3 separate regions of the Homo sapiens genome follow, and all the other regions are linked to region 2. Evidence: fine-mapped expression QTL. A gene starts in region 2. Each other region holds a variant in brackets. All regions are shown on one strand. Distances are from middle to middle.

Region 1 (10,078 bases), 24 kb after region 2:
GCCTCGAAGATATCTTTCATATGCGTAAAGTCTAATAGTTTACTAGGTTACATTTTTGGGGTAGTTTGTTCTTGGTCAGTTTTCCCCAGTTGGCTCTTAAAATGTGTAGATTCAGGTCTTTTATTTTCAGGAAGTTTTTTTAGAGTATTATTTTAAATATTCTGTTTTAGTGTTTTGAATATCTTCTTCCAGAGTTTGATGTATATGTATCTTGGAGGTATATGTATTTCTAATTATATAAATATTTGACCCTCTTTGCCTAATTTGTTTTATTCACTTCAACTTTGACCCTTTATACTTCTTTTTAAATTTCACTTTCTTATGGTTGTTTTTCTACTTTTCCTCAATGCCCTTTGTAAAATTTTCATTTGAATCTATTATTCTCCCTTGGACATCTTAATTCCTTCTCTACTATGACTTTTTCTTTCTTTTGTTTCTTTCCTGGGTTCAAGCCACTCCTGTTTCATTACTTTCTTTTTTTTTCCTTTTCTATTTTTACTCTTCTTTGGGGTCTTGAACTGTAAGAGGTCCTGGAACATAAATTTGAGAATTGTTGCATCATACAGTAGTGGTTTACGTGGGGAATTTCAGAAGTACTGAGGCCTTTGACCTAGCCTCAGAAATTGCAGTGGTCTGAAGTGGTACGTGGGCTTTGAATATTTTAAATGATAGCCAGGAGATTGTAATGTTTAGGAACTTCACTGAGATATAGTTTGGAGTGTGGTACATCATGTGCTTATGTAACTTATGTACTTACTATCTCAAAAAAGGTCTAAGTCAGTGGTTCCCAAGTTTTCAGAGAAGAGTCATCTGAAGATCATATTCATTTTTCATAGTTTGTTGTTAGTATGTAGAATTACAGTTAACTTTAAAAATAACTTTATTGTGGAACAATAATAGACTCATTGGAAATGCAAAAATAGTTCACAGAGGTTCTATGTATTCTTTACCCAGCTTCCTCCAGTGGTAACATCCTACGTAACTATAGTATAATATCAAAACCGCCCTTTTGGCTCTCTGAGCAGCACCATGGCTGTTGGCAAGAACAAACGCCTTACGAAAGGAGGCAAAAAGGGAGCCAAGAAGAAAGTGGTTGATCCATTTTCTAAGAAAGAGTGGTATGATGTGAAAGCACCTTCTGTGTTCAATATAAGGAATATTGGAAAGATGCTAGTCACCAGGACCCAAGGAAACAAAATTGCATCTGATGGCCTCAAGGGTCATGTGTTTGAAGTGAGTCTTGCTGATTTGCAGAAAGATGAGATTGCATTTAGAAAATTCAAGCTGATTACTGAAGATGTTCAGGGCAAAAACTTCCTAACTTCCTTGGCATGGATCTTACCTGTGACAAAATGTGTTCCATGGTCAAAAAATGGCAGACAGTGATTAAAGCTCATGTTGATGTCAGGACTACCGATGGTTACTTGCTTTGTCTGTTCTGTGTTGGTTTTCCTAAAAACAATGTAACAATCCGATATGGAAAACCTTTTATGCTCAGCACCAACAGGTCCGCCAAATCCGGAAGAATATGATGGAAATCAAGACCCGGGAGGTGCAGAAAAATGACTTGAAAGAAGTGGTCAATAAATTGATTCCAGACAGCATTGGAAAAGACATAGAAAAGACTTGCCAATCCATTTATCCTCTCCATGATGTCTTCGTTAGAAAAGTAAAAATGCTGAAGAAGCCCAAGTTTGAATTGGGAAAACTCATGGAGCTTCATGGTGAAGGCAGTAGTTCTGGAAAAGCCACTGGGAGCAAGACAGGTGCTAAAGTTGAATGAGCTGATGGATATGAACCACCAGTCCAAGAATCTGTTTAAAGTTCAGACTTATAATAATGGCAAGTAAAAAGTCCTATTTGTGGAAAAAAAAAAATCAAAACCAGGAAATTGACATTGGTACAATCTGCAGACCTTATTCAGATTTCACTAGTTTATACATGCACTCAGTTGTGTGTTCTGTGCAATTTAATCATGTGTATAGGTTCATGTAATCACTACCACATCAAGTTACAGAACTGTTCCATCAGCACAGAGGAACTCCCTTAGGTTTCCTCTTTGTAGTCACTACAGTTGATTTCTTTATATTAATTTGTATCATGTGACTTTGTTGAATTTGTCTTTTAATTCTAGTAGTTTTATTGTGGATTCCTTAGACTTTTTTTTATGTATAGGATCATAAAATGTGGTAATCATGAAATTGACTAGCAAGACAATTTTACCTCTTTTCCAATCTAGATACTTTCTCCTCCTTTCCCCCCTTCTTTTCTTTCCTCCTGCCTTATTGCACTGGATAGAACTTCCTTTAGAATATTGCGTAGAAATTATAAGATTAGATATTCCTCCCTTGTTCCTGATTTCAGGGGGAAAGCATTCAGTCCTTCAACATTAAGTGTGATTTTAGTTGTTTTCTTGTAGACGACTTACCAGGTTGAAAAATTTTTCTTCTAAGTCTAGGAGTTTTTAATCACTGTGATAAGTTTAATAAAGTTGCTACCTTAGCATTCATTTTAGGCCTAACATAAATTGTTCGTAATTCAGTCATGCCCTGTCACCTTTGGCCTAGTTAGAACTTCCCCTCCCTGCAGTTGTTTGCAATATGGCCTACTTGTGCCTCATCTCACTGACCCAAAATGCAACACACCATGAGCTGCCGATCACAGTAAAACCTAATGGTCAGCCTCAGAAGTCATGTGAATAAGTTCCCATTCACATTTGTTTTCTTTAACCAATTCACAAGAAGGAAAGCATAAGGAATAATGTCCCTTAAAGGTGTAGTTCCACAGTTCTTCTTTCTCCCTCTCCCTCCTGCTCCTTCCCTCTCCTGTCTCAGGACCTCCTGTCTGTCTCTGTTTGGCACTCTAACCTCTCTGGGACCTATGAGTAATAAACTTCTTTCGTTTCATGTATTTTGCCTTAGCTTCCTCATTGTGTCTCCATTGAGACACACATACTGTATTGTTCTTGATATCATTTAACATCTTTTCTTTAACAAATCAACAGTCATGAATGGATATTGGATTTTGGGAAATGCTTTTTCTATTGAGATGATCATGTGATTTTGTCCTTTATGATAGTAGTTATTATATTGATTTTTGGAGATTAAGCTAACCTTATATTCTTGGGATACATTTCCTTTTTTTTTTTTTTTTTTTTTTTGTGGGTCAGGGTCTTGCTCTGTTGCACAGGCTGGAGAGCAGTGGTGCAATCATAGCTCACTGTAACCCCAAACTCCGGGCTCAGGTGAGCCTCCCACCTCAGCCTCCTGAGTAGCTTGGACTACTGGTGTGTGCCACTAGGACCAGCGAATTTTTTAAGTTTTTTTTTAAAGATGGGGTCTCACTATGCTGCTGAGGCTGGTCTTGAACCCCTGGCTTCAAGTGGTCCTCTTGCCTTAAGGAGAGAGAAACTAGATTAAAATACAAAAGTAAATACCCAAGCCTAGAGAAGGGGAAAGATAGTGATGACTATTATTAACAAATTAATTATAGTAATTATTATTTTTTGCTTACCATTAGTTAATTTTGGATAGCAGACACATACATTCAAATATTTTAATAGTCCATGAAATATATAGGTGGGTAGTCTGGTTCTAGACACATGTTAAGCTGAAGTGCCAAGGATAGGAAGTAAGGTTGAAAGTAGTGGCATTCTTTTACTGAAAAGACATTTACTTTTTGGGTTGTTTTGCAGGTATAATGGTATCTCATCTACATTGTCACTTTGCCTAGTTTACTATTTTGTTTTTTGTTTGTTTCAGTGAATTCCTGAAAGAGAAAAAATAAACAACATGATTCTCTCTGTAACAGCCCCCTGGACCCCCTCACCCAGTGTTCAGCATGATATAGACCCTTGTGTTTACCCTTTTTTTAAAACCAGGAAATGGCGCTCCTGGTGTTTGGTGTGAGCACTGATTATGCTTGGTCATCAGAAATGAATGAACTGGCAAGGGAAATGAATAAATGAGCTCAGAGAAAGCAAAACTGAATCATGCTGAAGATGCTTTCTAGGATGATTGTATTTCTGAAACCTTAAATCAAGCTTGTCCAACCTATGGCCCATGGGCTGCATGTGGCCCAGAATGGCTTTGAATGCAGCCCAACACAAATTTGTAAATTTTCTTAGAACATTACAAGATTTTTTTGTGATTTATTTATTATTTACTTATTTTTAGCTCATTAGCTGTCTTTAGTGTTAGTGTTAGTGTATTTTATGTGTGGCCCAAGACAATTCTTCTTCCAGTGTGGCCCAGGGAAGCCAAAAGATTGGACACCCCTGCCTTAGATATTGAAAATTAGAGGTGCCTGCATTTCCAGTAATTAAGACAATTCTTACTGTGCATTTTTTTGCTTTCCATTATCTTTCATTAAAAAAATCTCCAACTTTTACCTTTTAGAATATTAGGATAGAATCTTATTAATATGAATACGTCCAAAAGTTGGCTTTTGTGGTTTTCTTTTGTCAGAAGTGCTGTAGGATAATATAACTTAAAACACATACAGTTTTCTGCTTCTCTCAAGATGTTCAGTTGTTTTTCAGAAACACCTGAATGAATGGTGCTAAACTTTCCATGGGCTTTGTCTAAAACTCGACAAGCATTAGATTAATATTTCTTTTGTAGGTCCAATTAGCATTCAAATATTATTCCTGAAGTATTGGATTTCATATGTTATTTTTTGTTGCTTGTTGATATTTTGGTTTTATTTTGGGGGCTGCCTAATTCTCAGGTCAAATTATTTCTGGTAGTTTTGAAATTTCTTTTTTCTTT[CT/C]TTTTTTTTTTTTTTGAGACAGAGTTTTTGCTCTTGTTGCTCAGACTGGAGTGCGATGGCACGATCTCGGCTCACCTCAACCTCCGCCTCCCGGGTTCAAGCGATTCTTCTGCCTCAGCCTCCCGAGTAGCTGGGATTACAGGCGTGTGCCACCACACCCGGCTAATTTTATATTTTTAGTAGAGATGGAGTTTCTCCATGTTGGTCAGGTTGGTCTCGAGCTCCCGACCTCAGGTGATCTGCCCAGCTCGGCCTCCCAAAGTGTTGGGATTACAGGCGTGAGCCACTGCACCCAGCATAAATTTCTTTTTTTTTTTTTTTTAAGGCAAGGTCACACTCCTGTCACCCAAGCTGGGGTGCAGTGGTACAATCTTGGCTCACTGCAAGCTTGACTTCTGGGATCAGTTGATCCCCCCACCTCAGCCTCCTGAGTAGCTGGGATTACAGGCATGTACCACCATGCCTGGCTAATTTTTTGTATTTTTAGAAGAGATGGGGTTTTGCCATGTTGCCCAGGCTGGTCTTGAACTCTTGAGCTCAAGTGATCTGCCTGTCTTGGCCTCCCAAAATGCTGGGATTATAGGTGTGAGCCACTATACCTGGTCAAATTTCTTTTTTTTAAGATTATTTTGAAAGTATCGGTTGTGATAAAATGAGGAAACCATATGTGAATGGATGGAATGTGGTGTCTTTTCCTAAGTTGAATAGAATTTGATTAATCTGACTATCCTCAGAAGATTTTGCAAATTTCATTTAAATTTAAGTTAACAGAATTTCTGAAGTAGTAATCTGAGGAGTTAACCTAGGCCAGCCAATTTTTTTTTTTTTTAACAGTTGAATGAATAGAAATCCAGAAAAGTTTGAGTTGAGCAAGGCATTTTGATCTATTTCCCCACAGAAATCAGTGGGAAAACTTTCACTTTTGTTCCAATCAGAGCAACTCCCTTTTAGTTGTTTAGTGTTTTGATTAAAGTTTTATTTTAAGAAAGGTTCTGCTTTAAAAAAAAAAGTTACAAAACCACTGCTTTTAAGGGGAAGGGATCCCAAATAAGTATGAGTGGAAAGCTATCAGAGTCTCTTGGCTTTTTTAAAAAATTAGCGCCTACTAGAGAGTCTTTCCTTGACAGTTATTTGCTATAAACTAGGCTTTGATATGATCAGAATAGAAGGCATCATTTGGAGTATCAAATACAGAGGAAAATAAAGTGATTCTTCAGCCTTTGCTTTGGCATAGAATGTTACCAGGTATGGACTTAACTATGTTTGCTGAAATTATTTTCAGGTTTTAGAGTCAGGAATGAAGGAACATTCCTTGAGTATTTGATAGATTTGTGGTTTATAGACAGTAAATTCTATAATCGATGAGCTTCCTCTTTAGAAGTTCTTGAACCAAATTTATGGTTCACTGTAAGCCAGTGTATAGGATTTAAAAGGATGAGTCTTTGCATGAGTCTGATTTCTAACTCATTTGATACTTCTTTTTCACTTCCAATAAATGTTATCTTGCTTTCTGAACAAAGTAGGTTATACATAAATGCAATTACATACGGATGGTTCCTGACTATACCTACACCCTTGTGTAGGTTTCAGGCTCTGGACTGGATGCTCTGTTGCCTCTAAGACCTGATGGGACAGGTCAGGAGCAGGGGCTTTGGGGCCAGACTGATTTGTGTTCAAATCTTGACTCTGTTGTTTATTAGCTGTGTGATTCGGGGACATTTCTTAACTTCTGTGATCCTTGATTTCCTAATCTAAAAAAGAAAGCCGGGCCGGGCACGGTGGCTCACACCTGTAATCCTAGCACTTTGGGAGGCCGAGGTGGGCGGATTGCCTGAGCTCAGGAGTTCGAGAACAGCCTGGGCAACACAGTGAAAACCCTGTCTCTACTAAAATACAAAAAATTAGCTAGGTGTGGTGGTGTGCACCTGTAGTCCCAGTTACTCGGGAGGCTGAGGCAGGAGAATTGCTTGAACCCGGGAGGTGGAGGTTGCAGTGAGCCGAGATCATACCACTACACTCTAGCCTGGGTGACCGAGTGAGACTCCGTCTCAAAAAAAAAAAAAAAAAAAAAAAGCCTACCTCACAGTGTTGTACTTAAAGAGTATACTTAAGTAAGAGAATGTAAATAATAAAGTGCTTAGTACTGTACCGAGAATAGAAAATTTCCCAGTAACTGGCAGAGTAAAGAAAGCAGCAATAGAGAGAAAATCCCTAAGAAACCTTCAGATCTGTATGTGTGTTCTGAGACCATACCTTGGAAGAGAGGGCAAAAACAATGTAGGTCTCTTTTTCCAGCTATTAACATATATTCTAATAGGATAGATACCTTGAGAGAATAATTAGTCAATAAGAAAGATAATGACAGGCACCTCTATGGATGCTTAAAATGGGGGCAGAAAGAAATTAATGCTAAAGTGGTAATTTGAAGCCTAGGGTCTTAGTGGAAAGATAGCAATAGCCATGGTAAAGCAGTTTGGACAGTTACTGTGGATAGCATCTATCACTTTTGATAAGAGTACATGTTTGCATAATGATTTATGGGTTAAGTGTCTTTAGTTATGTGATCTCATTTGATGTATACAACACCATAAGGTGGCTTATTATTCAGATGACACTGGTCACATGGGGACAAGTTCCAAAGGGAGCAAGCAAGGACAGAAAAAACAATTATTTTCCGTAATGGTTAAGAAACGGAAAGGTTCTTATAGTCACAAATGGCAAGTGAACAGTAAAGCTGGTTCAAGAAATCCTGATTCTAGTCTAGGGCTCCTTCTCCTATAGTGTTTATTATTTTGTTTTTACTCAAAATGGAAATACTTAAAGATGCAGAGTAGTTCATAATTAGAGTAGGCAGAAGTGGGGGTGAAGCTAAGAGTCGAAGGCTCCTTAAGCCCAAGTAGGAGTTATTTTCTGCTAGGTAGTGTCTTTCATTGAAAATTCCTTATTTCATTGAAAATTTTTTTAAATTATGAATTTGATTATATTACTTGTTATTTCTTTGAACCATTTTTCAGAAGAATGACCCTGAGCACACTCTGCTATGGTGTTTGTACTTTACCCTCTGTATTTCATTTCTAGAACATCCTTTTCCCACTTCTTTTAGCTTCGACCATCTTTTGAAGCCACTCTAGCTTTGTTGGAGTTTGCTTTGTGATCAGGAGGCTACCTAAAGCCTGTTTCAGTCTCTTCAAATAGCTACAGCAGCGGCAGATAGTAACAGGAGTCAGAAGTGTGGTTGCCACTCAAGTAGCCCAAAAAGGTTTGCAGTGCAGAAGCTGAAATGGCTTACCACAGATGTGATCCACTTAAAAAGGTTCTGAAAACTCAATTCAGTGAAGTGTGTTTGGGCTCAGTGCATTGGACCTGTGACTTCCTGTAATGTTTACTTAACCCCCTAACTTCTAAGTGGTACCTCCCCCACCTCCCTGGAGGGGAAAAAGATACGCAATTGGTTTTGCAGGATTATGGAGATCAAACAAGCATCTAACAAAGACTCTTCCTTCCAGGTACCTCTTTCTCTCTTCCCTCTCATCATAGATTAATCACTTAGTTGCAAGGGACCAGTAAATTAACAGAATGGTGAACATTTTCCTTTTCTTGGTGCTTTTGCTGGATGACTAGTGGTTTCTGCTGGAACAGAGATGAACCATCTCAAGGTTATGAAAATTCCTGACTGTGGCAAATGTGAAAGAGTGTCTTTTTAATTCCTGGGAAATACTAAGACTTCTTCTCTAAGGTGCTTATTTGTAAAGTAAAAAGGTGACCTTAATTTCCAGTGCTATGCAGTGAACACAATTTTTGTGGAAACTAGTTCTAGGATTTGAAATGAAGACTATATGGTCTCTGTTAATCTGTATTGGTAAACGCACTGCACTTTATTGAGAGTTCTGGTCGTTAACCAGCGGAATTACTAGTATTATAGAAATTTATTAAGGATGGCTTATTGGAGTTGACTTGTAATTTCAGTCATTTCTTTGTAATTACGAGGTAAAAGATGATTTGTCTTGAGTTTAATTATTTCTGTAAGTTAAAATAAGGAATTTGTAAAGCATTCCTCAGTTTTATGTTCAGTTATCTAGGAAACATGCAGCAAAGAAAGGATGTGAGATAATTATTCAGAAATTTTAGTTGCTCGTGGTTGTGTGTTGAAGGCATATACGTGACAAGCAGTTTTGGAATTTCTTGCAAAGTCAGTATTGCCCTATAGATTGACCTTACAGAAAGTCCTTATTGTGTGTTTCAAAGTCTTCTTTGTAAATTAAAATATGAAAGCTGTTGTTACTCTGCTGATAGTTCTGATAACTCATGCTAACTAAATAGTTAAGGGAGTGGAAGAATACAGCCAGCATTCCATCATCTGGAAGGAAAATAGTGAGGTGGCAGATCCCTGCCTGACTCAGCTTTCACCATGCCATAAATAATATCATTTTCCCAAGCAATACTGTGGAATGCAAAAAGAAAGAAAAATGTAAAAAAAAAAAAAGTGGACTGAGATGAAGAAAGCCAATTTATAGTTGTAATAAATAATATTTTGTGTCAAAAAGGAAGAACAAATTGACAAGAACTTGGAGAAATACCAGCTATGGATAAAGGGAAATAAAAATGATGGAAATCCAGATGGTATAGAACTAAAGATCCAAATGTAAACAGCAGCTGTTTACATTAATTATCTTGTGGATGGAGTCCCTCACTGAGCTGATATGCTGTTACGTTAGTGCTTTCAGGTTTTGGGTTGAATCACTTAGGTATGCCTACACACTTGCTTTGAGAAAAATCATATGGTTAGCTGTGCTTTCCTTAATAATGATAAGTTAAATAACTATAATTTTACTATACTCAGTCATATGGAGAGATTTGAAGACTGAAGTATAATTCTGTGTTACTGCTAGTTGGTAAGCAGATGTCCCTACCTCATGGTCTCTTTGACTAAGTTAGATTGTAAGCCTCTGGAAGGCAGAAGACTGTTCTTCATCTCAGGTTTGGCATAATGCCTTTCATATAGTAGGGGCTCAGGAATCTCTGTTGATGTTATAAATTTGATAAGTGTTCACTGCTGAACCTGCATGTTGATGGTAAGACCATATAATGGTCTTACCTAGAAAAACCATATAATGGTCTTACCTAGAAAAACCTTTTGACTTGTATTGCTTTGCTCTATCTTCTGCTGAAATTAAACTATAAACCCCCCAAATGCATAATAAAAGCCCTTGCCTTGCTGTGTGGCTGACAGTTTCTAATGTGAGTGGAGGTAATAGCTGAGGATGGTGCTGTAGAAAACTTACCTCATAGGCCTAGGAAAGAAAGGTTT
Region 2 (10,078 bases):
CAAAAAGGGATGGTGGTGAACTCAGCTTGGGTTGTGGGAATGGGAAAGGAGAGGCAGGGATAGATTTGAGGGAAGTATTGGCCATGTGCTTCTCAGAATATTGTGCACACATTACTCTGCTGTTTCACTTAGCAAGAATAGCAACTTCTAGGGCTCTCCATGTTCATTGGAAAAACAGCTTGTCTGTGAAAATATCAGTGAGTCTTGGCTGGGTTACCTTGGGGGAAAAAGACAATTTCTCTGGGCCTTATCTATAAAATGGGCAACAGACCACATATCCAATAGATGTTATGAAGGTTAAATACAACAAATACAGCATACTGCACATAGAGCATTCTCAACAAATGTTTGTTATTTTTACCTTCTCATAATTTTCCTCACCTCAAAATAAAGTTAATATCAATATACTGCCTTGCTCTGATGAGATAATTGGGTTAATATTAAAATTTAAGATATAGCCATGTTTCCAGCAAATATTTTATTCTTTGAGACGTAGATATGGATATGTATGTATTTATTTCACTCTATGTCAAGATGAAAATAAATACTATCCTTCAGAAGAAAGCTCGGGTAAGTGAAGTATGTTTATAAAGATTTATATATGGAGCTAAATTAATTCTTGAGAACTGAGGTATTTGTAGTCATTATTTTACTTCATTCTGAGAACAAGTACAAATGAGCATGTCAAAAATGACAGTTATTATGCTTTTAAAATTTGATTTCTTACATATTCTAATTATATTCTTTTAATTAGTAACCACTCTTTGTTCTTTCTCTTCCGCAAAGTGAGATTGAACTCAGTTCCTAATGCAAAGCAGTTTGTAATTTTTATGTAAGATGACATGTTATTAAGTAAAAAGAATGACAATTGTTTTTCCACTAAAGACTTAGTGATGACAAAAGAGAATTAAGCAAATCACTGAGGGAATACCTAATTTATTAAGTGTCTTGAGAAAGTCACTGTGTCATCACTATCAGATTCAAATTAAGAGGATGCCTAAGCTGCCTACATTTTGACTTTAGAAATATATCCAAGATTTTGACCAGGCAAAGAACAAAGATGGCACAATTCAAGAGGTTTTAAAAATAGTTGTGAAGCATATTCTTATTAGGAATATGCTTGAGAGCTGTTCAGTTATCGTAATGCTAGACAGCTGCATCTCACTGCCCTGTGGGCCCCGGACTGGCTTCACTACACGCTGCATGCACGGGATTTCACAGAACACTGACAGTCACTTGCATCACCAGTATTCTCTTGACCACAATACCTTGTCACCAGTTTCCCTGCTGCTAGATTTTATTTTACTGTACTTCAGTATAATACCAGCATCGTATACCAGGTTGGTCAAATATTTACAGAGAAAAAGTTGGGAGGGGGTAGTAACGGAGTCTGGAGGAGTTACAGGTATCGAGTCTCCACGGTTCCATTTTATAGGCTATGCACGGCTCTGCTTGTACACTAGAATGATCCAGACATTTTTATTTTGGAGATATATGCTGAAGTATTTAAGGTAGAGTATCTTGGTGTTTGCAATTTGTCTACAAGTGGTTCAGCTAAAAAATAATGGAGAGGCCGGGCACGGTGGCTCACGCCTGTAATCCTAGCACTTTGGGAGGCCGAGGCGGGCGGATCATGAGGTCAGGAGATCGAGACCATCCTGGCTAACACAGTGAAACGCCGTCTCTAATAAAAATACAAAAAATTAGCCAGTTGTGGTGGCGGGCGCCTGTAGTCCCAGCTACTTGGGAGGCTGAGGCAGGAGAATGGTGTGAACCCAGGAGGCGGAGCTTGCAGTGAGCCGAGATCACGCCACTGCACTCCAGCCTGGGCGACAGAGCGAGACTCCATCTCAAAAAAAAAAAAAAATTATGGAGAGACAGAGAGAGAGACTGATGGAGCAAATGTGGCCTTGTGTAATTGGATAAAGGTATATGGGTGTTCCTTCTACCATTCTTTCAATTTTTCTTTACATTGGAAAAATTTTAATATAAAAAGTCAGGAAAACCTCCCCAAAACTTTTTCTTTTCTTTTCTTTTCCTTTCCTTTCCTTCCCTTCCTTCCTTCTTTCTCTTTCTTTCCTTCCTTCCTTCCTTCCTTCCTTCCTTCCTTCCTTCCTTCCTTCCTTCCTTCCTTCTTTCTTTCTTTCTTTCTTTCTTTCTTTCTTTCTTTCTTTCTTTCTTTGACAGAGTCTTACTCTGTCACACAGGCTGGATTGCAATGGTGTGAGCACAGCTCACTGCAGCCTCCAACTCCTAGGCTGAAGCGACACTCCTGCCTTAGCCTCCTTCTGAGTGGCTGGGACTACAGGCATATGCCACCACTCTTGGCTAATTCTTTTAGTTTTTGCAAAGATGGGAATCTCACTATATTGCCCAGGCTGGTCTCAAATTCCTGACCTCAAGCAAGTCTCCTGCCTTGGCCTCCGAAAGTGCTGGGATTACAGGTGTGAGCCACTGCACATAGCCCAAAAACTTCTTAAAAGGTACAATGATAAAGAACTTTTAAAAAAGATTTACCAATAGTTGAAGGACAATAGAATTTGTGACTGCAATAAAGGTCCATAAATACAGCAAAGGTGACCTTGCTTAAAAAATTTTAAGAAACGAAACTTTCTTTTTATTCTGTTAACTATGGTTCCTACTGCCTTTTCCAGAATGAATATACTTAGAATCATACAGTCTGTAGCCTTCTCAGACTGACTTTTCTCATTTAGCTATATGCATTTAAGTTTCCTCCATGTCTTTGTATGGCTTGATAGCTCATTTCTTTTTATCATGAAATAACATTCAATTGTATGGATGTACTGCAATTTGTTTATTCATTCACCTTGTGAGGGACATCTTTGATTCTTCCAGGGTCTCGTGATTATGAATAAACATTCGGGTACAAGTTTTTGTGTGGGCATGTTTTCAGCACAATTGGGTAAATACCTAGGAGTGTGATGGCTGGACTGAATTGTGAGACTATGCTTAGCTTTGTGAGAAACTGCCAGACTGTCTTCCAAAGTGGTCGTACCATTTTGCATTCCCATCGGCAATGGATGGGCATTCCTGTTGTTTTGTATCCTTGCCAGTATTTGGTATCCTTAGGTTTTTTGTTGTTGTTGCCGTTAGCTTTTTTATTTTAGCCATCCTAGTAGGTATGTCATAGTATTTCATTTTTGTTTTAATTTGCAATTCCTTAATGACACATGATATTGAGCATGTTTATTTGCCATCTGTGTATTGTCAACTCCACTTTAGGGAGGTGTCTGTTTAGATCTTTTGCTCACTTGAAAATTGGATTGTTTTTTAATTGACACCTGAGTGGCCTTTTTAAAAAAGTGGGTCTTATGAATAAATAGAGTGAGGGCTCAATCATGAATTCATTTATTCAGCAACTACATCAGGTACTGCCACTCTCATACCCAAGGTCTGCATTCCTCTTTTCCATTACTAACAAAACTCTAATATTCCTCCAGCCAATGCCCCAACTTTAAATACTTAGCATTTCAGACTCCTTTGCAGCTAAAGGTGGTCATGTGACATGTGGCTGGCCAATAAAATGCAAGCAGAAGGTGCTGGGTAAAGCTTCCCAGGAAGATGCAGACCCAACTGGGCATGCACCTCTTTGATCTTTTGCCCTTTACCCATCCCCCTACCATTTTCCTCAATGTGATGCAATGCTTACAAGGGAAGCAGGCATCCTGTGAGGATGAAGACAGAGATCACATGACAAGGATAGCAGAGACAATGGCTAGAAAGAGCCTGAGACACAACGACACCATAGAAGAGATATTACAGAAGCCCTGTGGCTGTCTCCAGGTTTCTGGTTTTGTGATAAGAAGCACTCCTATTTAGTAGGCACTTTTAGTCAAGATTCTGTTACAGGTCACCAATTCACTCCCTGATGCAGCAACATTTTATTAAGGATGAGGCACTTATTAGCGGTGGGCTCTAATCCTCTAACAAGACTGCTCTAAGCAGTTTTTATTTAAAGGACTGGTTCACACAAGACCATATTTGAAATAATTTATTTGTACCATGAACCACAACACTAGGAATAGAATCATATTTACCACATGCTCAGCACTGTACTAGGCATTATAAAAGGAGGAAAGAGGACTGTAAAATAAGGGCCTTATCCTCATGGAACTGATGATCTAATTAGAGAGGTAAGACTGACCTATATGAAACAAACCTGAACACTTTGGGATGATGTGTTTAAGGGCTAACAGTGAGTGCAAACTAAGTGTAGCAGCGGTTTATAAGGCTGGGGTCACCGAAGAGGGAAGCAGCCAGGGAAATATGATTAGCAACCTTGAAAACACTCTGGGTATCTATACTTTCATATTTTTGAGTTCTAAATTAATGACCTAAACATAGACATGGAAGCCATTCCCCTGGGTAAGTGAAGATGAAATGAAGGAAAGTCATTTTAATTTGAATGCCAATTTAGCTTTCAATTCAGCAGACATTTGTCACTCTAGTATCAATATTTAAAATACTGGGTCACTGTAATTATTCACCAAAATCCTGTTTACCTTGTTAATTACCAGCAATTTTTTAAAATGATGGCACTTTATGGAAACTGAATATACGTCATCTTTAAAAAGAGCTTTTAAAATCCCTCCTTTGGAAGTAATGCAGGTTAATAGATTAGACATTTTATGAAGAGGGCTGCATGATTTTTCTACTGCATTTCTGGTGTTGCAAACTTTGGTGAAATTATTAACTGCTATTCATTTTTTCCAACTTTTAGTTGTCTCTAGCTAGATGTTGATCATTATTACACATCTGTAAAGAAAAGAGCAAACCAACTTGAATTAGTGTTTCTTGAACTATTCATTAGAATTTAAAATTTTTTCCTAAAAGTTTTTCAATTTAGTGATCCTATTGGTAAATAAAAAGAATAAAGGCATGCAAATTAAAATAAAGGTAACATTTCTATTAGATGTTTTTAAACCCCTTTCCTTTGTGACCTAGCTTTTCTATCTTGGCTTTTCTATCTTTTCTTCTCTTCCTTTCCTTTCCTCCTTTCTTTTTCTTAAGTTTGTTTATGCCTCAGTCATCTGGTCGCACGTGGCTATGTTCCACTGTGGCAGGGCTTAGCTGGCAGTTTCAGGGATATCTTAGTTTTAATAAGTATTGTGGATTTCCTCACATCTAGGGTGGAGAGAGATTGGTTATAGGGTGATAAAAACAGAAGAATCTGTGTTGAAGGAGATGGGAAGATTTTAAGAATGCTAACGAATTTGAGCAGGGCATAAAACCAACCCATGAACAGGGCTACAGTCCTCTCAGGGTTGCCTGAAGCCTCAGCCCTGGAGGACGTCTGACACCTTACAGGTAGAGGACCTCTGTGCAGGAGCCCTCAACACCCAGGGAGGATTAGGATATAAGCGCAAACTCAAAGGTACTGTAATGGGCACCTAGCAATCAGAGGTGATACAAGGGTCTCTTGGCCCGAAGTATCCCCACCTCTCCTCGCTGGAAAGGACGCTGCCTAAGCCTCATCCCGAGCTGGGGGCGGAGGACCAAGGGTGAGAGCCACCGCCTCCGCAATCCCCCGCCCCTCGGCACCGTCGCTCAGCGCGCTCGCCGGCTCCCTATTGGCCGAGGCACTCGCCAATCCTGGTGAAGCGGCCCCGTGAGTTGGCCCTGGTTGGTGGAGCCGGCACTGAGCCCCCCTCCTGCTCCGGCCGAGCCCCCCCGCCGGGAGGGGGCGTGGCCGCGGCCGTGGACGGGCCGGAGGCGGCGTCGCTCGCGCCGCTGCGTGCGGTGTGGTGCGAGGCGGGTGCGCCGGGCGGCCGCGGCGCGGCGGGACCATGGAGCTCAGAGCGCAGCCCCGGCGCCGGCGGCGGGACCGCGGACCGGTGAGTGAGGGCTGCGGTCGCCCCGGCTCTCCGCTGTAGGCTGCTGTGGCCCTCTCGGCTCCGGGCCGGGCGGCTGTCGGGGGAGGGGCGGCCCCACGGCGAACTGAAGTTGCTGCATCGCCGCGCGCTCCGGCCGGGCGGCGGGGCCCACTGCGGGCTGCGGCGCCGCCTCGCGCCTATCCCTGCAGCCCGGCCGCATTCTCCCGGCCGGCTCCCGCGCTGGCAGGGGCTTCTCGCCGTCACGGCGCGGCCAGGCGGCCCTTCTCTCCCGCGCCTCCGGGCCTCCGGCCCTTTGCCGTCCGGTGCGCGCTCCCTGGACTCGGGACAGCCACCCGCCCTCCCCGCCGTAAGTGGCGCCCGGGCCTCCGCTCGCGCCCCACGCACGACGCCCCGGGCCGCTCCGCGTCCGGGACCTTCGCATCCGTTCAGTGTCTGCGCGCCCTCGCTGGTTCTGGTCCAGCTCCGCGTGCCCCCCGGCCCCATTCGGCCCTCGCCGCCCTGGCCTGTGCCCTCTTGGTGCCCGCGTGCGTGTTGGTTGCGGGCGTCCTCTCCCTCGAGGCTGCGGTGCCGCGTGGCTCCCGGCCTCGGAGACCAGGCCGGACTCTTGGAGTGCAGGGGAGGAGGTGGGGCGGCCCGCGAGTGCGGGGGACCGCGCGCACGGAGCCGCGGCGCGCGGGGTATCATCCCCGGGGGTCTTTACCCGCGCGCCTGGGCTTTAGCGAGGGCAGAAGCTTCCTCTCAGTTTGTGGTGCTGACGTGCAATGGCGATTGCTTCTTGATTTGGCCCCTCTGCAAGGGAGAGTTCCCTGGTGGAGACGAGAGTTCTTAATTATTCAGAAACTATGTGATGGGCTTAGGGATCAATGGGAGCATCATAGGAATTCTTTCTCATTTTAAGGTTAATTTTTAAATTAGCGGTTTACTTCCAGCAACAGTCTCGAGTTTTCAAAAACTGAAAATTAAAAAGACTACTTTTCGCAGTTCTTCAAATTAAATGCATAGCAGAACATGGTATTTTAAGATTCAGAGTCTACTTTTTATAAGGGGGAGAGGATAGCTATTTGAAATATTTTGCATCTTAAAAATTAGGTTTATCTAAAGCTTAAAATGCGACTCTATCAAAACTAAGTTCAAAGTATTGTAATTGACTAATCTTTCTATTGTCTCTAGGGCAAATTCTATTGCTTCTTTTTATATGTGCTTTACCCAACTCTCCTTTTCTAGCAGTTAAACAATGCAGTGGTTCTTTAAAGCTAGTTCTTTTATCTGCTTGAGAGGTTAAACAAACGAAAGCTGGGTTTGACCTTTCCCAAAGGCATTCTCATTGTGTCCTCTCCAGCTCCCTTCTCCCAGGGTTCTAATGACTTCAGTGTAGTACTCATTTTTCTTCATCTTGAAAGATTTTCTTAGTTGGTATTCACAAAAGCTGTGTCTTTTCACATGTTTAAATATTGGAAAGTTTGGTCAACTATTATATTTACCTTCCAACCTGTGCTTATTCTAGAACTATGTACATATAGAAATTGTTCTTGCATTTCCAGTTGGCTGACATGAAGTTGCTTAATAGCATTTGTTTTTAAAAAATCTGTTTGCTTTAAAATTTACAACCTAATAGTCAATGATGTGCTTCACTATCTTCAACAATTACGAAAACAAAGGTGGAACACACTTTGCTAAGTGGTCATGCCAACATTGTAACCTCCTATCTCTTGTCAGTGTGTCTTTGTAGTCACACGTTACGGTTCCCATAGAAACCTATGTATGGCAGGTAACCTTTTGGTTATTGGGATGTTTTGATTAAAACAATTGCGTTATAATGCAAGTATTAAATGAATTGTCCCTACTCACGGGCTAGTACTAGTGATCGTCTTTGGAATTCCAAGGACTTTCTTTGAAGAGTACTCCCAGATTGTTTTTCACTTTGGGTGGCTCTCCATTGCTGTAGACCTTGAATCTCTTTTTCTTTTCTTTTCTTTCTTTCTTTCTTTCTTTTTTTTTTTTTTTTTTTTTTTTTTGAGACGGAGTCTTGCTCTTGTCTCCCAGACTGGAGTGCAGTGGTGTGATCTCGGCTCACTGCAACCTCCGCCTCCTGGGTTCAAGCGATTCTCCTGCCTCAGACTCCCGAGTAGCTGGGAGTACAGGCGCCCGCCACCATGCCCGGCTAATTTTTGTACTTTTAGTAGAGATGCAGTTTCACCATGTTGGACAGATTGGTCTCGAACTCCTGACCTCAGGTTGATCCGCCCACCTCGGCCTCCCAAAATGCTGGGATTACAGGCGTGAGCCACCGCTCCCGGCCGAATCTCTCAACTTCTCTTCTCAGTCCGTTTTAAGGGCCCTGTTTCTTTCAAGTCAGGCTTTTTTTGGCTTTGCTCTTGGGCATGTGGAACTAAATGCTTCTGACAGCCCCACACATTCTTCTTCAGGGCTGGTTCTTTACCTGTGGCTTGACTTTATGCTGGTAATACAGAAATATTTTATGCCAGTAATACATAAATGATGTACATTATAAAATAAACAATATCAACACAGAGATTTATAGAGGTAAAAAGTCTTAAGTTTTCTTTTTCCCGTCTTATTGTTGTCCTATTCCTATTTCTTTCTTCAGAGGTAACCATAATATAGGGTGTATCCTTCTGGATTTTTTCCATTTAATACTGTAGATGAAATATATAACCCTGTATGTTAAAAAAACCATTTCATGAATGCCTACTAGGTACCAGGTACTATTTTAATCACTAGGGTTGCAAAAATAAGAGACAGACGCTTTCAAGATGTTCATAGTCTACCAGGACAAGCAATTACAGTGCAGTGTGATAAGTACCATGATAGAGTCAGTAATCAGTGAGGGATGTAGGAGCCTCATGCATGACCTAATCCATTCATTCATTTGCTTTATTCATTCAGTACACTTCAGAGTTTTAATATGTGCCGGGGATACAGAGATAAACAAGACAGATACCTCTGTCAGCCCCCGATGAGCTTGCTGTGCAGTTCAGTCTCAAAGAGTTTTAACCGTTGGTTACAATGTATTGTTTGATATGGGATCTGAAAGGGGCCAGCAACAAGAGCTCAGAGGAGGACCATAAACCCAAGCTTAGGGACGTTCAGAGAGACAGGAAAGCCTCCCAGAGGAAGCACCATGAGAAGGAATTGGTCGAAGTCTGGGTTGAGGAGAGGGTGTACAGAGAGATGGTCAGGGAGGTGATGCACTGGAGCAACCACAAACACCAGGAGTTCAGTCCAGTGGGGGTGGTTGTGGGCAAGGGCAGGGAAGTGGCAAGAAGTGAGGGAGGAGAAGTAAGGAGGGACTGTGCCTTGTGGGGTCTTGTGATTACTGTTGTGTGGAGTTCGGAGACCTCTGTGGGCAACAGGAAATGGTTGAAGAATTGTAAGCAAAAGAGGGACACGGTCAAATTTGCCCTTTGGAGAATGGATTAGAAGAGGGAAGGCTTGAAGCAGGGAAATTTGAGGAGGTAGAATTGCTGGGATTTGGTCATTGGCCGTGTGTGTGTATGTGGTGGGGGGAGTTGGGGCAGGGAGGAGTTCAGGGCAGTGTCCAGCTCTGGCTGGGTGGTTGGGTGATGGCACTGTCCTTAGGTGGGGACAGAGCAGCATCCATTTTGGGGAAAAGATTATGGGTCACACTTGGCTGGGTTAAGTTTCAGGTGCTGAGGGGACAGTGTGTTCAGTTGGCTGCACTAGGGATCCAGATAATCAGGAGTTGTCTGGATTAGAGAGACGCATGTGAGAGTTATTAGCTGTCCCAGACTGTCTCAAACAGTTTGAGAGTTTCCCAAACTATCAGCTAAGGTGCTACAGCAAACAGGGAGACTGGGGGATGTTTCACATTGTTGAGGAAAACACATAGTTCCGTCTCTTCAAGCCTGTGGAAACTACTAGCTCAAGATAGTTAAAAATGTCTAGATTAGATTGCACTCCATTCCATTCGATGACCTCATGTTTGTAAAGAAGGATTTTTGGTGGTTGCTGTAGCACGTGAAAATCAGTGTAGAAAAGGAAATGAGGGAGGCCATTGTCCAGTCTGACTCCAAGGTTTGAGAGAAATTGTGCAGTGCTCAACAAGTGTACACATACTGTATTAGTAAATACTTGTGGTTATCTAAGAATGAAATAAAAATGCCATTTTTTCTCTCTATTAAAGTGTACTTTTTTCAAGTTGGTACCAAGTTGTTAGGACATTAAGTACTTACGTTTTTAAC
Region 3 (10,078 bases), 61 kb after region 2:
GAATGGGTATGAGAAGTCAAGATTTAAAAACTTAAACCTAATCAGTTGGCCGGACACGGTGGCTCATGCCTGTAATCCCAGCATTTTGGGAGGCCGAGGTGGGTGGATCATGAGGTCAGGAGATCGCGACCATCCTGGCTAACACAGTGAAAGCCCATCTCTACTAAAAACACACAACAATTAGTCGGGTGTGGTGGCATGTGCCTGTAATTCCAGCTGCTTGGGAGGCTGAGGCCCGAGAATGGTGTGAACCCAGAAGGCGGAGCTTGCAGTGAGCCGAGATCGTGCCACTGCACTCCAGCCTGGCGACAGAGTGAGACTCCATCTCAAGAAAACCTCAAAAAACCAAAAGCAAACCTAGTCAGTTTTACAATAATTTACTCTGAACTGAGGTGGTGGTGATCGTGATAGTGGCTAAAATGAGGTTTTTGAATTATTTATGGATTTCAGTGACCTGTCTTACTCTAATTTTAAGGGGTAATTGAGGAGCAATGAGACATAGCAGACTAGTAGGGCAAGTTATTTCTTTGAGCTTCACTTTCCTCATATGCAGAATACTATCATCTGTCTTGCCTGATTTATGAAACTGTAAAAATCAAATGAGAGGATGTATATGGAATTTTCCTTTTCTTTCTTTCTTTTTTCTTTTGGAAGGATAGGGAGAGAATAACACGTCTTTTGGTTTTAAGATGATATTGAAAGAGAACATAAGGTAGAAGAAAGGCTATTATACCAGAATTAGAAGCTGGAAGATTGATCTCTAATCCTAGCTTGCCTTGACCTTGGGCATATCATTACATATTAATTTACCATAGGAAAATTGAACTTGATTTCCATACTTTCACTTTACAGGTAATTTTTCAGGAATGTATCTGTGTTCTCTGACCAAGTTTAATTAAGCTAGAAATCAGTATCACATACCCAAGAAATTCCAAAATATTTTGAAATTAATGATCACAGCCTGAAAATCCATGGTTAAAGAGGAGCTTACAAGGCAAAATACTTTGAATTGAATGAAAAGGAAAGCGTAACGTATCAAAATATATGCGATGCACCTAAAGCACTACTTTAAGGGGAAATTTATAGTGTTAAATGCTTATATTAGAAAATAAAAGTTAAATAGCTTTTGGGCTTTTCCTGTATGTCATGATGGGTTACAGGCTGATTGTAGTTCTGATAAATGGTTTCTTTCACTTCCTATCCAATTTATATGAAAAGGGGAGATAGTTAAATTTTTTTGTCAGGCAAGCATTTATTTTTTAACACGGATACTGTCTAGTATTTGTGTTCCACTTTATAGTTTTTGGGGGGCTTTCAGGTGTGTCATCTCACCACAGCCTTTTGAGATAACCAGGCAGATATTACTGCTTTCATATTTAGAATAAGGACTTGAGGCTTATGGAGGTCTCAGCTCTTGAAGAACTCGGGGCTTCTGCTTGCCACGCCATCTGCTTGTTTTGCTGCTGTGCTGCATTTCCAGGCTTTTTGTAGAAGCGCTGTCTGTGTTCAGACTGTTGTTGTAGGTGGCACACTCTGATTAGCTTGGTGAGGCAGATTCTGTTGGATGAGGGAATTCTCTAGGAGGAGTGCTTTTTCTTAGGCATTTCCGTTGGTGTTTGTATTATGCCCATCAGAGGTGGCCTTTTTTTAAGTACCGTTTTGGAGCTATGTCTATCTGGTTGCTAAATGTGTCTTTCCTGTCTCATTTCTTTTATCATGATATTTAGTCCTGTGTGTGGCTAACAGTCGACTTATTTTTACTTGACCTTCATGTTAGAATGTACATATTAAATAAATGTTCAGTGATCTCCTACTTTGTCATACTCAGATTATCTGTTGCCACAGATTTGTTTTTTTTGGTTTTTGTTTTTGTTTTGATTTTTTTTTGAGACGGAGTCTCGCTCTGTCACCAGGCTGGCAGGCAGTGGTATAATCTCGGCTCACTGCAACCTCTGACTCCCTGGTTCAAGCGATTCTCCTGCCTCAGCCTCCCGAGTAGCTGGGGTTACAGGCATGTGCCACCATGTCCAGCTAATTTTTGTATTTTTAATAGAGACAGGGTTTCACCATGTTGGCCAGGATGGTCTCGATCTCCTGACCTTGTGATCCCCCTGCCTCTGCCTCCCGAAGTGCTGGGATTACAAGTGTGAGCCACTGTGCCCAGCCCACAGATTCATTTTTAAACTGCTTTATTGTGGAATAATTGACATACAGTAAACTATGCTTATTTAAAATGTATAATTTGATAAGTTATTTGAAATATGTATACACCCATGATACCATCAATGTAGTTGAACTGGTGACCGTTGTTTCCTCATGGCCCTTGGTCATTTTTCCCTTTTGTTTCCCTCCTACCCTCACATAACGGCTGCTCTGCTTTCTGTCCCTATAGATAAGTTTATATTTCCTAGAATGTTATGTAAATGGAATAATACAGTATGTAGTATTTTCGTCTGGCTTTCATTCAGCATAGAGATTCATCTCTTGTTGTTGCATGTATCAGTAGTTCATTCCATGTTATCATTGAATAGTACCTCACTGTATGGATGTAATGCAGTTTGTTTGTCCATTCACCTGCTAATGGACACTTGGATTGTTTCTAGTTTTTGGCTGTTACAAATAAAGCTGCATGAACATTCATATACAAGTCTTTATGTGGGCACATGCTTTTATTTATTTTGGGTAAATATCTAGGAGTAGAATGGCTGGATCGTGTGATAAGTGTATGTTTAACTTTTTAAGAAACTTGCAAACCATTTTCCAAAGATTATTTTGTTTCTCTTGAGCAGTGGATGATAGTTCCAGTTCATCCATGTTCTCATAAGCACTCTGTATGAACAGTCTTTTTAAGTTTAGCCATTCTCATCAGTGTGCAGTCATATCTCCTGCGGTTTTAATTTGCCTCTCCTTAATGACTAATGCTGTTGAGCATTTTTCATGTGCTTGCTTGCCATCTGCATAACTTCTTTAGTGAAGTGTCTGTTCAAATCTTGTGCCCATTTTAAGAAATTGGGTACTTTATTATAGATTTTCAAGAATTCTTTATATATTCTGTATCAGATCTTTATCAGATATATGATTTGTAGTTTTATTCATTTTAATAGCATTTTTTTTCCTTTTTACCCCAGAATGAAATTTTTGGGAGCCAATATGGGATTATTTTTTGGTTTTATTTTTTGCACTTTCCCCAACTCCCATAAAAGTAGTTACTCTTTGTCATCTTCCTTTTCTTCCATTTTCTGGCAGGGCACTTAGTTTGTATTCTCTTTTTGGGGGGCTGTACATGAGTCAATAGCTGTGCAGGACAGAAGACCCCTAATTAGTGAATATGTTTGCATGGCTGGGATGGTCAGCTCTTTATTTCTGGAGGTTGGAGATCTGCCATTCCAATTGTCATCAGTATTGACTCGTTGTCCCTGGGGTGTAGTCAAAGGCCTCACCTGAAGTACTACAAGGTCAGAAGCCAGAACAGGGCCAGATTCAGATTCAATGATGAAAATGCTGGCGACAATTCACCAACATCCCTTGATTTTTACATGTTCATTTCTGATTGAATTGTATTGTGCTTACTGTGTGATTGTAATTTTCTGTGTGATTGCAGTTAACTTTTTTGTGTGACCTAATTCATAGCTTTTTTTCTTACAACTTTTCCGTGTTTTCTTTTTTAAATATGCATTCTCACATCTATGTATAACATTTTTAAAAACTATCAATTAACACTTGTTAATTGTATTATTCAAATCTTGGTCTTTGTTGGTTTCTGAGAAAAGTATGTTGGGTCTTCTACAAAAGGATAATAAAAGTTCATAATTGTCATTTTTAGTGTTTTTTTTTTACCAATTGAATATGATAAGTGTCTTCCCCTCCATCTGTTTTTGTTGCGTTCACCTTGAGTTTCTCTTGTGTCTTAGAGCCTGACTCCCTTTTGTTGTTAGCATTTGCCTGGTGTATATTTTTAATCTCTTTATTTTTATCACTCCTAGTTATTTCATTTTAGATGTATTCTTGAATATTTATCTTACAAAACCCAAACAACTCAGTGTGTTGCTGCTTTGTTCAGTGGAGGCTGTTTGGTGAGTGGTAAGGACATGGACTGAGTCCAGGCTGCCTGGGGTTGAATTCAGGCACTGCATAAACTGGCTGTGTGGTGTCTGTCAAGTTTACTTAAATATTAGTGCCTGTTTCTTCCCTATACAATGGAAATATTAATAGTTTCTATCTCATTTTATAAGAATTAAATGAGCTAATATATGTAAAATTCTTGACAGTGCATGGCACATTCTATAAGTGGTTTGGCTGTGTTCCCACCCAAAATCTCATGTTGAGTTGTAGTCCCCATAATCCCTACGTGTCAAGGGAGAGACCAGGTGGAGGTAATTGAATCATGGGGGCAGTCTCCCCCATGATGTTCTTGTGATAGTGAATTCTCATGAGATCTGATGATTTTTTAAGTGTTTGGTAGTTCCTCCTGCATTCATTCTCCCTCCGGCTGCCTTGTGAAGAAGGTGCCTTGCTTCCCCTTTGCCCTCCGCCATGTTGGTAAGTTTCCTGAGGCCTCCCCAGCCACGTGAAACTGTGATTCAATTAAACCTCTTTCCCTTCTAAATTACCCAGTCTTGGGAGTATCTTTTTAGCAGTGTGAAAACAGACGAATATGAAGTCTTAGCCATTAATAGTGAGTTCACCCATTAACACTTACTGTGATTATTTGGAAGGCCATAGTCACTATTAGTGCCTCCTTTTTGTTAAAAAAATTAATACTTTCTTGTCCATTGCTGACTTTATTACAATTTTTTCCTGTAATGGTTTGTTATTTATATATCCAGTATCTTCTAGTTGTTTGTACGAAATCAAAATATTGATCATGCAGATAACACCTGAATATATACGTCTTTTAAAAACTTGCAACACATTTGCAATTAAAGTACCTTTTGAGTCTCAGCTCTGTTCCTCCTCCCTTAGAATAATAAATTCATTATTATGAATTTGAGACATTTCCTTCTCTGACACACACTCTCTCGCTCTCTCTCTCTCCCCACCGTCTCCCCCACCTCCGCCCCCCCGTCTCTTTCATACATGTAGGACTACATAGTACTTTTTACTAAATGGCATACTGTAATTATGAACTTTGTATTTTTCATTCACTGCTATGTTTTGGAGGACACTCCATATATATATTTATCTTGTTTCTTTTAACAGCTGCCTTTCCCCTATTGGTAGTCATTTCCAGTTTATCTCTATGTCAAACAGTGCTGCTGTGAACATTCTTGTACATGAATTCTGTGCACAAGTGAGAATGTTTCTCAGAATAAGAGATGGAAATGCTAGGGTCCATAGTATGCATATTCCTAGTTTTATTAGATATAATTCTTTCAAAGGACAATTTGATGGTTGGCTGCCATTTGTATTTCTCTGGTGTAAATTGCCAAGATCTTTTCATTGTGGTTCTCCAACCACACATCTCGTGGCCACAGTCCTTCCTGTCATATTTTTGGCTTGTGGTTTCTTCCTTTAATCTCATCCCGTTGCCTTTCAACTTTGGAGGTTATCT[A/G]TCATTTGTAGTCCTGTAGTATTGTTGCACATATTTTAAATGTACATCTTTTTCATCATTTCTGTGGGTTTGAAACAAAGGAGAAGCCTAGTCTAGGTGCTCTGTTTATTATATTCTATTTCTATAATCTTCCATTTCAAATTATATAATTTTTGAAAGGATTTCCTATGAATGAGCTAAGGTTATGCACATACATGCCATACACAACCTGCTTATAAGTGTCTCATTTTAATGGAGAAATATGCTTAGCATATGCTGCAGCCTTAAATGGAAAGTAGATTACATTTAATCCCAAATCAAGGAAATGGAGATTGTTGTTCTTCCTTGTCTGAAATGTCACCTTAAACTGCTGTTTTCCTTAGTTTACCCACAGCAGCATTTCTGTAAGTCTCCTTGGAGGCTGGGTATATATTCTAGTCTTATGCACACAGCTTCCTGGCAGACATCAAATGGAATTTGACTTACCAGATGTCGTACTGAATCATGGTCTGCAGAGATGCGGATGGATCACATCCTTGGCTGGGGAAGTGGGGTGGATACAAATATCTGGGTCAACTCAGTGGTTAACCAAAGGTTAGTCATGTTATAAAAAGTCATGTATATCAAAAATACAAAACAGAGTAAGATAGGGGGTCTGAAGCTTATGCATGCAATCAGCAACAAGGCAGTGTCAGGAGTTGAAGGACCAGACAAAACCATCTGTTTAATAAGATAATAAAATCTGATATAAAAGGAACCTTGGAAATGTAAACCACCTCCTTCCTTTTTGGTCAGAGCTGACTCTTAATGACAAATGATCAGGTGCTTAGAGGGTTAAGAATGGGGAGGGACCTGCTGGGATAGAGGGAAAGAGAATGAATAGAAGCATCATATTAGAAGTCAAGGATTACTTGAATACCAAAGCAGACAACTTTCCCCTCCTTGGCTGCCTTTTTATCCTGGTAAGACACAGAAATGAAGTAGCCTTGGCTTACTGGCATATTTATAATTGGGACCTGTAGGAAGCGTTTACAATGGGGATGTGGTGGGCAGAGCACCAGTGGAAGTGAGAGACCGAGATTCTAGTGTCTACTCCAGGATGTAGGAGATTTTGGGTCTCTTTGTCTTAATCTTTGATTGTAAAATAAAGTTATGCTAGATCTCCAAGGTTCCATTTATCTTAAAATTTTTTTTATTAAGTAGCTGATTTTGTCTGGCTGATCAAAACAGGGAAGAAAAATAGTTCCTGGTCAAAGCATCTCGGAGGTTCCTGGGTTAATAATGTGCATCAGAATAAATTTTTATGCACAATAAAGGACTATAAAACAGATGTAGGTTCAAATATTAAATGTATTCTTGAATCCCACATGTTCTGAGTATCTAGTTAAATGAACACCATGGTCTAAAAGGACTTAGAAATAAAATATGGGTATATTTTAAAAATATTTTTTATCTAATAGGAATTTAGTGATTTATTTAACTTTAAAAAGTCTGAATTAAATGAACATAACACAGAGCATAAAGATTAATTGAAGCATAGATATGTAGAGCGTGGCAAGTTGTAGAACAGCAGCTTTTTTCAGAGCTCCCTTTACCCTGTCCATGGCTAGAAGAGAAAGGCAGGGAGACCAAAGGCTTGATCTTCACAGGCTCCCACACCACTTCTGTATCCCCACCCATGATACGTTGTTCTTCACTTTTACTCCGAGATTTCTTCCCACAACAGAGAAACTGCAAGACAGGAGCTAATGGTGAAAACCCTGGTGGAGAGAAATCTTGACCTAGACTTCAAATCCCTACCTTTTCAGTTAGAACCATATTAGCTTCTACCTGGAGGATCTTTATATGCCATTTTGTGGCCCTTGAAAGACAAACTGTGTCCCAGAATGTCCTCTAAAAATAGGTACTTGACAAGGTTTTTCATTACATTATTCCATAGACACAAAGTTGCCTTTTTCTGGGAGACTTATTATTTAGTTGTTGAGGCTGTATAGCAAAAGCTAAGTGACGTTTTAAAATGGTGGAATGCTGCTTCTAAGCCTTGAGTGAGAGCTTCACTCTTCCATCCTCAAACGTCTGTTGAATAGCTTCCCGATGCTGAGCAGGATGCTGGGGGGTCTGTGATGCCGTGTCATCTCCCATTCCCCACTGAGAATGGAGTATTTCTAGTTGCGTTTTAATTTCCAGGAATGAGACATACCTTTAATGTAGTGCTTATCACACTGTGTTGTAACTTTATTTATATGCCTGTCTCTGCCACTAAACCATTAGCATCTTGAGGAATGGGGTTTGTTTTATTTTCGTTTGTTCAGTTTTTGCATTTCCACTAGCTAAAGCATCATGAAAACACACTGAATGTTTGGAGAGTAGGTGAATCTGATATGGTAGTTTCTGAAAGCCAGCTGAATGTCTAACTGAAAAGGAAAGTATGCCAGAGCTGGAGGGAACCCAAGAGAGCAAATCTGTTCTGCAGGAGAAGAAACTGAGGCCCACCCTGATGAAGAAACTGAGGCCCACCCTGATGAAGAAACTTGCACAGAGTCGTGTAGTGTTAGTGGCAGAACTTGGACTAGAACCCCAGTTCCCCAATTCCTAGTCCTTTGCTGCTTCACTGTACCTCTCTGTCTCCCATCCTGTGGAAACATACAGACCACATTTCAAAGAGCAAAGTGTGAACATTTGTCCCAGTGAAATGAGGTTGATTGAATTTTATGTGGTCTTTCTTCCTTCCCTCCCCCTAAATCACAACTTTTAATAAAGCTTTAAAAAGAAGCAGTGTGGCTCTAGAAGGCAGTGTGCGAAGTGAGGAGTTTAGGAAGCTGAGGCCCTTCCTTTGGCGGTGGGAATGTTATGTTAGTGAGTATCTTTTGGGAGTTGTCAGTAGGCACTTAACTCCAAGCAGAGTGCTGTAAAGTGGAGGCAGGCAGACATAGCCCTTGTCCTTCAAAATGAGAAGGCCACACTGAGGGGAAAGGTCAGAGGAAGGGCTTGGGCCAGCATTGTGTCACTCTACTCTATGGGCCCTGGCTACTTTTGCTTGGGTCACTTTCATTCCGAGGGCAAAACTCATACATACAAGTAAAACATGGTTAAAAAGCCCAACATCTGCAGTATACACACATTTAGTTTTGTGTGTATAATATAGTCTGTGCCACATGTTTTAGTGCTATCATGCACTGTGCTCTAATTACCTGGCATGCAGCAATCAGAGCAAAGGTTACCAGCACATAGAAGAGAGAATCATTAACACTGTCAGGTTCTGCAAACTGGTTGTTCTGAAAGCTCAAAGGTCAGTCTTTAATGGCTGCATAGTGGAGAAAGAAATCCACTACAAAATCTATTCAGTTAATTTTGTATAGTCAACTACCTCTACCTACCAGTAATATCGTTTTAAAATATGTAATAAAGACTTAATGCAGTTAACATGTTACTCTACATCCCATGAACCCTTACTGCGGTGGAGAATGACCACAGTTGTGGGCTTCAGTTTATTTGCCCCATTACAGTGTATTCTATGCATGAAAGCTGTTATCCATGTTAATAGAGTAGTGGTGGTGTTCTTTTCTTTCCAGAATAGTCTGCTCTCTTTGGGGTCTGCACACATAAATTCTTAAGAGTGTACTCATATGTTCACTCATTGAGAATATCAGTTTACTTAGCTGGACGTGGTGGTGGGTGCTTGTAATCCCAGCTACTCGGGAAACTGAGGAAGAAGAATCACTTGAACCCGGGAGATGGAGGTTGCAGTGAGCCAAGATCGCACCAGTGCACTGCAGCTTGGGAGACAAAGCGAGACTCCGTCTCAAAAAAAAAAAAATCTGTTTACTGTTTCTTTCTTTTTTTGTGAAAATAGTTATCAGCTCAATGTCTTAACAAAAGAAGAAGCTGATATGTTACCCTTGTTCTTACTGTGAAGGTGGAGTTTCTCTTCCAATTAGGATATAAGAGAACATTGCTTCTATTTTAAGAAACAAAAAAGGCCAGATTATCTAGAAAGCAATAACTTTTCTTAAATCCCAAAGGGTGACAAACCCATCTGAGAGTAGACAGGACACTTGAACTGTTTCACATTTAGCAGAGCACAGGGGGAACAGGTAACCATCATAGAAGTGCATAAGAAGAATTCAGCAAAAATTGTAATGCATTCTTAAGGTTGAGTATGGGCTAATGCATCAGTTTAGGATAACCAGGTACCCCAGATACAAGGGGAAGGTTACACTTACTCATAAGCTGTTTTCTACAGCCCTCCACTGGGTACTCTTAAGAAAGCTTATGAGCAAGCCTGGAGACTAGACAGAACCTCTTTTGATCGTGCTGCTCTGCGGGAGGTAATCTCAGCTGCCACTGGGAGACAGGCATGATGTAACACCTGCTTCCCCACAGCCTTCTCTCCTATGACAGAGTTCCCAGGAGGGCAATGAAACCTCTAGCCCATAGGACTCAGCAAAGATCTATTTCTGGCAGAGGTTTAGGAAACCCTCTTTCCTGCCCTGTGACCAGCAAGATCCTCTGCTTCTGGGACGAAGGGTAATTAATAGCAAAAGCAGG

Alleles and levels. Positions count from the first base shown, and alleles are read on the strand shown. Sizes are in standard deviations (SD) of each study's normalised expression. Not every link is listed here.
For the expression in macrophages after interferon gamma of the gene that starts at base 5,719 in region 2, allele CT in region 1 goes with a lower level than allele C (moderate effect, 0.74 SD a copy in Alasoo 2018).

What was found. PIP is the estimated chance that this variant, and not a neighbour inherited with it, causes the effect.
Region 1: its variant is fine-mapped to the expression of WASF3 in macrophages after interferon gamma (Alasoo 2018, PIP 0.91).
Region 3: its variant is fine-mapped to the expression of WASF3 in blood mononuclear cells (TOPMed, PIP 0.95).

What each region holds. Positions count from the first base shown.
Region 1 is chr13:26,575,857-26,585,934 of GRCh38, forward strand. All of the region lies in intron 1 of WASF3 (WASP family member 3), which reads left to right. It also overlaps the pseudogene RPS3AP44. Among named protein-coding and RNA genes, the nearest start is that of WASF3, 23 kb to the left of the region's middle. The variant CT/C (reference allele first, on the strand shown) is at 4,770.
Region 2 is chr13:26,551,965-26,562,042 of GRCh38, forward strand. It overlaps WASF3 (WASP family member 3), which reads left to right and starts at 5,719. Exons shown (of 10, transcript NM_006646.6): 1 at 5,719-5,855. RefSeq lists silencers at 5,293-5,352, 5,613-5,822.
Region 3 is chr13:26,613,441-26,623,518 of GRCh38, forward strand. All of the region lies in intron 2 of WASF3 (WASP family member 3), which reads left to right. Among named protein-coding and RNA genes, the nearest start is that of WASF3, 61 kb to the left of the region's middle. The variant A/G (reference allele first, on the strand shown) is at 5,552.